2 linked regions of the Homo sapiens genome follow. The protein of the gene in region 1 interacts with the protein of each later gene in a biochemical or structural test. Each region holds a gene or a part of one and is shown on either strand. Other genes may lie near its edges. The genes, in order: ARHGAP32 and BCAR1.

Evidence for each region.
Region 2: the proteins of ARHGAP32 (region 1) and BCAR1 form a complex in vitro, tested with the Homo sapiens proteins (one study listed by BioGRID).

Annotation. Positions count from the first base shown.
Region 1 is NC_000011.10:128,965,046-128,968,861, reverse strand, and holds the end of ARHGAP32 (rho GTPase-activating protein 32), read left to right. Parts: 3' UTR 1-3,802; downstream 3,803-3,816. UniProt on the Homo sapiens protein: GTPase-activating protein (GAP) promoting GTP hydrolysis on RHOA, CDC42 and RAC1 small GTPases. May be involved in the differentiation of neuronal cells during the formation of neurite extensions.
Region 2 is NC_000016.10:75,237,983-75,241,798, reverse strand, and holds part of BCAR1 (breast cancer anti-estrogen resistance protein 1), read left to right. Parts: intron 1-3,138; exon of another isoform or gene 3,139-3,705; coding exon of another isoform or gene 3,706-3,708; intron 3,709-3,816. UniProt on the Homo sapiens protein: Docking protein which plays a central coordinating role for tyrosine kinase-based signaling related to cell adhesion. Implicated in induction of cell migration and cell branching. Involved in the BCAR3-mediated inhibition of TGFB signaling.

The sequences.
Region 1 (3,816 bases):
CTGTTCTATTTTTTTCAATAACCAAAAAGATTAAACAAAAAATACTATAAAACCCCTGACCACATTTAAAAAATGATAATAAAAGTAAACAAATCAGCATCTTTTTCCCCTTCCCTGCTTCATTACCCCCTCTTCCATCTATAGACTTTGTCATTTTTGTCTTTAGAAAAGATCTGAAGGATGGTAAAGCCCCGTGCTGAAACCCAGTAGAGAAACCTGTCTCAGGACACACTTGCCATCTAGGGCTAGCTTGAAAGAGCCTGAGGACTGCCTTTAACTGAATTTGAATTCAGCATTGTCCTTTCTTCTTAGTATTTGCTGCATAATTGAGAGCAGTTCACATCGATTTCCTGGTAGGCGTCTGCATTCCCTGTTGTGTTCCTGCTTCTCCTTCAGTAGCTGCACAACTTGCGCAGATCGACACACTGTTGTCACTTCATTCTCCCCGTCTGAGAAGGATCTTGTGTTCAGTTAGAGTCGTGGAAAAATCCCTGATCCTTCAAGGTCAGTCAGACAGTTGGCAACATTATAATTAAAAATAAGAAATTAAGACTTTAAATTAAACATTTGGTAGAGTCATCATAAAACACCAGACCACTTAGACTCAGGCTGAACCATACTCTTTCTATTCTTATTTTTCATCCTTGTTCCTCACGGTTCAGTGAACAGGCTCATATCATGACAGAATGGACTTTTAAAAGTTAGTACTTAAGGAAACTTCTTTAGGTGGAAGAAAGTAAAGTTCTTATTGTCAGTGAACTTTATTAGCACCAGAAATCTCTATTGATGCTTTTAATGCATTGCCTGCCTTCAGGTTTTCTTCTTACCCCACCCCTCAATAAGATTTGGTGAATTGTAATTCTAGTAAAACATGTCATACCATTGGTTTTCCTAAATTATCAACTTTCTTTCATTAAAAAAAAAAAAAAAAAAAAAAGCCCAGCATGGTTTGACTGGATAGACACGCATAATTTATTATGAATATAAATTTCCATGTTTGTTTCTGTTCCTAAACCAGAGTACGAGGTCCCTGGGAATTTAAGTAGCTACGCATTATCTATTATTAGACTGCAAGTTCCTGCAATAACTGCTTAGTTCACAGCCCCGTTTCACCAGTGGAGTTCTGGGCAGTTATTGCTGTCCTAAGGCATTACTGTCGTTTGCTTACTCTATACTTGTGTGGTCACAGTCTTCTTGTAATTACCATCTACACCAGCATTTCAGGTATAGCTCTTTATAACTCTGGAGACATGTAAAACATGTTTAACACCCACGAGTTTTGAAAGTTGCATTCCTTATTAGAGTAGGAACTCTCTAGCCCAACTCCATTCTATGTTCTCAGCTCCCTCCACCCCCCAAAATACATCAGACTAGCAAGGCAGTCCTATGTTTACAAAACGAGTTTAGATTGTCATTTCATTCCATAACTCTTAATAATACTCAAGTTTTATACATTCACGTATTTTAAATGCTCGGTCTGTAGAAGACACTAGGAGAATTGCATTCCAATTACTGGATGGTTGCTGCTCTGGCTTTTTAGAACTTGAAATTAATTTTTATTTAGAGCAAAGGAGGAAATCTTTTAAGAGGCTAAAATCATGCTGCTATTATTGCTGTGAAATTGTATAAAGATTAGGATTCATGCCAGTTTTTATTTTAAAAAATAATGTGCATTTTAAGGGTTTATATTTAGAAAAAAATAAAATGTTTCAAGAACAACACATTGATATGTGGAAATATTCTATAAGGTTTTCTTTTGTTCCCTTAGAATTCATTGGAGGGATGCAGTAAAAACTGTAGTAGAAACCTTGAAACACCCATATGTGAAAAGGTCTGTGGAAATTGAGGCCTCTACATTAAAAGTGCAGAACCAACTGTTTTACAGTCAAAGTGCTAGGAAACCTGATAGGATACTTCCCTTTGGCACAAAAACACCCTGGGTGCTACATACAGGAGTATGACCTTTGGTGAATATGTGGCACTAATTTTTTTTACCTTAATCATATTCTTGTCAAGTAGGCAACCCATTGCCCCTTGGAGACCACACCAGCCCTGTAAGTTCTCACCAGCAGCATGGAGATTAGGAAGAGGGGCTGCTGTGACCAGGAGATACACACGGCTTTAAGTAACTGAGAGCCTAAAGAAAGTAACCCAGGGAGTCCGGTCCAGTTTTAATATTTGTGGATTTGTTGTCACACACATTGTTTAGTCCTGAAACTAAAACCTATTTTATAAATAGTAGGGTTAATTCCTCGAAACAATTTCTTTATTAATAAATGTCCTGTGGGTTTAGAAATATCAGGTAAATATTTGAATACAGAATGATGATTGCAATTACTGTTACAAGCGTGAAACACAAACTTCAGATCAAATCTAGAGTTGCTTCATTTAATGCATGCTAGCAACAGCCTTAACTTTGGATTCAGTTATTTGAAACACTTTTCCGGCATCTTTCCCTTTCTAATGTTGTGGGGTGGAAACCGGATGGCAAATCACTGTGAGCCGGATACCTCAGCACAGTCCACCTTGTGTGTGACTTCACAAATGGGGGACTTCACAAATGGGGTAACTGAATGTTATTACTTTCAAATTTTGACATGGAGCATTATGATCAAGGAAATGGAGCTGCCTTATACATTAAACCCGTGATTTAATCCTATTGACATTTTCATAGCCATGCCTCCAGATTTTATCTTTTTGGCAAAATTCTGATTCCACAGTTTGGTCTGATTGAAATAAATATTCCCTGGACGTCTGGCTAAAAATTTTGCTAACAATCCCAGAGGTGCCATTTTCTTATTAATAAATTTCATTGGAGCCTTATTTCTTACTATATTCAATTTCGTTTCAAACCTGCAAGTCCCTGGGATGGTCCCACGACTAGGGCCTGCACATTTCTTACAATGGCAAAGCATTTTTTAAAATTTAGGGTCAGGTTGAAAAATTCTAGGACTAATTCTGTAGAGAGGAGGGACTGTTAACTAACGTGAGTGGGGACGGAGGAGTAGGTTACCACATTTGGAGCAGTAATAGATGCAAACGATGTAAATTTGAAATTTGCCCCTTTAGTTAAAGAAGGAGCCTGCAAAGTCCATTTCTCTGTTTTCAGCCCTGTCAGTCACCCATTTAGGATGTTGGCAAAGTACTGCTTGAGCAGAATGTGTAAGAAAGTAATAATGAAAGCAAAAGTATGTCAGACAGTTACTTCTTCCACATGGTTAGAGGCATGTGATTTTCAGCACTGTGTGTTACAGAAATGTCAGGAATGGTGTATTATAACGTGTGCAAGATAATGTCAGTGTGCACAGAGGGTCTTTTTTCCTTATCTGATTAGTACTGTTAATGTTCAAAGAATAAAAATGGTTTTACAGTTTAGATTCTGAGATAGCAAAACCTGATTTTTCAACCATGACCTGCATGAGAGAAGCATCCTAGGAAGTCTTAGATCATACTTTTGAGTTTTTAATTTTAATTTATATAGTGTTTTTTTATGTCTTAATATTTTTGTGAACTGGTGTAAATTGTTAATGCATATAAGCTTGTGTATTTTTGTAAATAGTTTTGTGATTTATTTCTTGCCCCATATGTAAATATTTAGAGTCTCATTTCTTGCAAACTTATTTGAAGCTGAGTTGTGGGTTTGGGTTTTGTTTGTTTCTTTGGTTGCAGGGTGGGGTGGGGGGTGGCAGGGGAGGGAGGAAGGGATTTTTGTACCTGGAGATGGAGATATCTTGTGGTTTAAAGCAAATGTCCCACTGAAAGTGATTCAAATATCAACAGAATTATTTCAGGTTAAAACAGACTGCTTTGTGTATG
Region 2 (3,816 bases), on another chromosome or scaffold:
TGTAGGAAGGAGTCAGCACTAGACACTCAGCCCAGGGCTGAGGTGGAGACCTCATTGGTGCCAGCTGGGCAGCGAGTCAGCTGGGAGTTACCCCCACCCCCGCCCATGGGTGGCCTGGTACCCAGGAGGCATGGCCGGAGGTCGTTGGCGGGTGGGGGACTCCATGGACATGGGCCACCAAGCCTGGCCACCAGGGGAACCTGGGTCACTGGCTCCCACTTCCTGCTCTACCTGCTCCTTCAGCCATCTGGTCAGAGGCGAGCCTGGCTGGCGTGGGGTGCCTGGGTGGGGGTGCTCCCAAACTGGCTTTAGCAAGAGGAGCAGGGTCCTGTTATCCCCTGGGGAGGCGGCAGGGAGCAGTGTCCTGTAGGGGAGCCTCAGGCCACAGTCCAGGTATACCCACACCCCACACAGATGAACACACGTGCATGATGCCTGTACCCCACAGATACGAACACCCATGCACACACCATATGCACGAACACACACATGCGCTACATGAATGTGCGTGAATACATGCACATATCTGCATCCCATACCCCATAAATGGACACACGTATACGCCCACACATGCGCACATCATATGCATGAACACGCACACACCCAAACCCCATATGTGTAAACACACGTGCATACTCACCCCACACACAGACACGTGTACGTCCACACATACAAAGCGTGTGCACCCACCAGTATCCCACAAACGTACAAATGTATGTGCGTATGCACACGCACACACAGTCCACACTGCACATGCCCCAAGGTCAGGCACATCCCCACCCCTCCTCTCCCGCCTTTGCAGTGAAGCTTGTCCTGGTGCGGCTGGAAGCCCTGTGGGCTGGGGAGCAGCAGCGAGACCCCCAGACAGAGCCCGGCCTCGAGGCTGTGTTTTGGCAGCTGTTCTGTCTCCGTCTCCGGCAGGGGGCCTGCTCTCAATTGCATCAGGGGCTCAGCCAGCTGGGTCCTTCTCTGCCCATGCCCACTGGTAGAGCTGCCCAGACCTGTGCCCCAAGGGCCCTGACCTGGCTGATGGCCCAGGAAGGAGAGCCCTGTGTCCTGGGCCTGGCTGCTCTCCCCCAGGAAACCTCCCCCAGTCTTGATTGTGTCTGCTTGTATTTTATGATCACAAAAGCAATGCTTGTTTGCTGTAGAAAATGCATAATGTATGGGAAAGTCTGGAGATGAAATTTTCCAATCGCGGTAATCACTGGGAAATTCTGGCATATTTTGTCTAGTATCTGCCCTGTGTTTCACAGATTTATACATGCAGTTTTGCATTTCAAAGTTGTAAATCCAACATTAGATATCAAAAGCATTTTGTTGAATTCTTAAAGCTTGTCCCTGAGCCGCCTTGGACTTTGCTGGGTTGCCCCCTCTGCTGGGGCGGGCCCTGGGCAGTTTCCGATTGCTCATGCCTTCATTACGGTGGCACGGCGGTAACACCTGGCTGCGGGACATCTGTGTCTGAACCTCCAGGTGCTCCCCTCCAAGCCTCAGGCCTGCCCCTCAAATGCCTGGGAAACTGAGTCTCCCAGTTCCAGGGTAGTGGTTGGCTGGGCTGAGAAGGAGCCCTTGCCAGGACTTCACGTGGGCGGGAGGGACACTGGCTCTCAGGAAGCCAAGAGGGTGAGTGACAAGGATGGTGGCCAGGAGGGTCAGAACCCTGGGCCCTGGAGCAGGGTCCAGTGGTTGCTAAGGTGGGAGCCTGGTGGCCCGTATGGCTGAGGGAGAGGTGAGGGCCACACTGGCACCGAGACTCTTTGGGCCGGGTGTGGGCTGTAGGAATCTGAGGGCAGAGGCTCTTTCATGGTCAGATGGGACCCCCGGGGGAAGGCGTCTGTGGGAGGTCGCTCAGGTAGTGCCCCTGGTCAGTGTCTAAGGAGACAGCCATGGCGTGAGGTCAGGCGTGCACGTGGTCCTGTCGGGCCTGTGTTTCACCCTCCTCGCCCTAGAAGCTTCATCTTGCCCCAGGCTCCCCTGTGCTGGGACCTCAGGCTGGGGTGCCTGGAGCTGGGGAGGGAGGGGAGCGGGCTATGGTGGTGGCCCCTCAGGCCACCATGACCCAGGTCGGGTGAGCCCCTCATGCTGGGGTGTGTCCTGGTGGCCGTGGTCGCAGCGCTCCTGTGGTGCTCCATTTCCCAAGGAGGAAACGAGGCTCCTGGATTGGGACCTGGGGGTGCCAGAGCCGGGAGCCAACCCAGGTCAGGGGCGACACCCATTTTGCAGAAGGGGGAGACCAGCCACTGAGCTCCAGGGCGGGGGCCCACTTTGTCCCCTTCCTCCGACCTGACACCTGCCTCTGGGGCCCTTACCGGGAGGCTGGGATGTATTCCTGAGTTCGCTTGTCCCCCCGCTTGATGCCTGATAGTAGGGGAGGAGAGGGGCGGCACCCTGGCCCTGGGGCTGCCTGGGTTCTGTGCGTGCACCTGGCAGTGGGCCTGTGCTGTGTTTTCTCTGCATTGTATGAGGCATGTGTGTCAGAGACCGTGTGGGTCTTATGTCAGTGACTGTGCCTCTGTTCTCTCCTCCTGGGCTCTGGCTGTGTTCCCCTAACCCCCGGGGGACCTCCACGGCCTGCTAGTGGGGTCTCAGGTGTGCAGCAGGGTGGCCTGTGATTAGCAGTGGGGCTGAGTCATTCCCCTAAAGAGCTTTTCCCCCTGGTGGCTGCGTTGCTCTGTTTTTCTAACAGAAACATTTGGTCACTGTGGCTGCCTACTGCCACCCGACTCAGCTCCAAGAGTGGCAGGCGGCCATTTGCCTGGGGAGGCAGGCCTGGGTCCAGCTGCACCCCTGGGCCTCACCGCGTGAGGTTGGGATGGCCACCGGCAGGGTGCTTTTGGAGGATGCTCATCCCTCCTGCTGGTGCTGGGTCCTGGCTGAGCCTTGAGGCTGGGTCCCCACCTGCCTTTGGGAGGCTGGGAGGCCTGGAGAAGCCTCAGGCCGTGCCTCGAGGCCCAGCCAACCTGCCACGTCCCTCCGCCCCGCCTGCCCCGCTGTTGGCAGGTCCCTGCATCTAAAAATAGTTCTGGAGGAGACTCAAGTCTGGGGCGCGTGGAGGGAGATGAGTCTGGAGAGGCAGCCGCCAAATCCACTCCCAGACGCACTGGAAGGGGGCGGGGACACCCCACGGAGGCCCCCAGCCGGGACTCTGCTACCAGGCGTGCTGGAGACCTAGTGGGCCCAGTTCTGCTGCGCTGCGGGGGGCTCTGCCAGGCCTGCGGCTGCTGGGGGGTGCTGGCGCCTCTGCCACCCCCATGCTCAGCGCCCCCCTCACAGCACCCTCAGCAAGCAGGGCTGGCTGCCTGCCTGCATTGGGAGGGCCTCTAGGGGTTCAGGGGCACTGGGCCCGGGGGAGGGGCTGCTTTGGCGCTGCTGCCCTGGGGGATGTGCGGGGAGGCCCTGAGTCAACCCTGTCCCAGACATCCCCTTTGATGAAGGAACAAAAGGTCTTTCAGTGGAGAGAGCTGAACAGGGAGCCTGGTGGTGGAGGCGTGTGGGCGCAGTGTGCCCGGGGGCTGGAGAATCCCACCAGGGAGGCCTTGACCTCCCCAAGGCAGGGAGACCTTCAGGGAAGGAGGCTGCCTGGCATGGCCCCTACCCGCTTCAGGCTGGTGCTGGTGAGGGGTCCTGTGGCCCTGGGCAGGCCATTGTGCTGCCTGCCTCTTCACCCACTGTGCGGGCCTTGGCTTCCCTGGGCTCTGGGTCATGGTAAGAGCACCTGGGGAGGGGAGGGCTGGCCCTGGACCCACTTCCCCCACTAGGCCTCATCCTTTCAGGTCGCTGGGGATCTTACCTGCTGCAGGCAGCTCCCCCGGG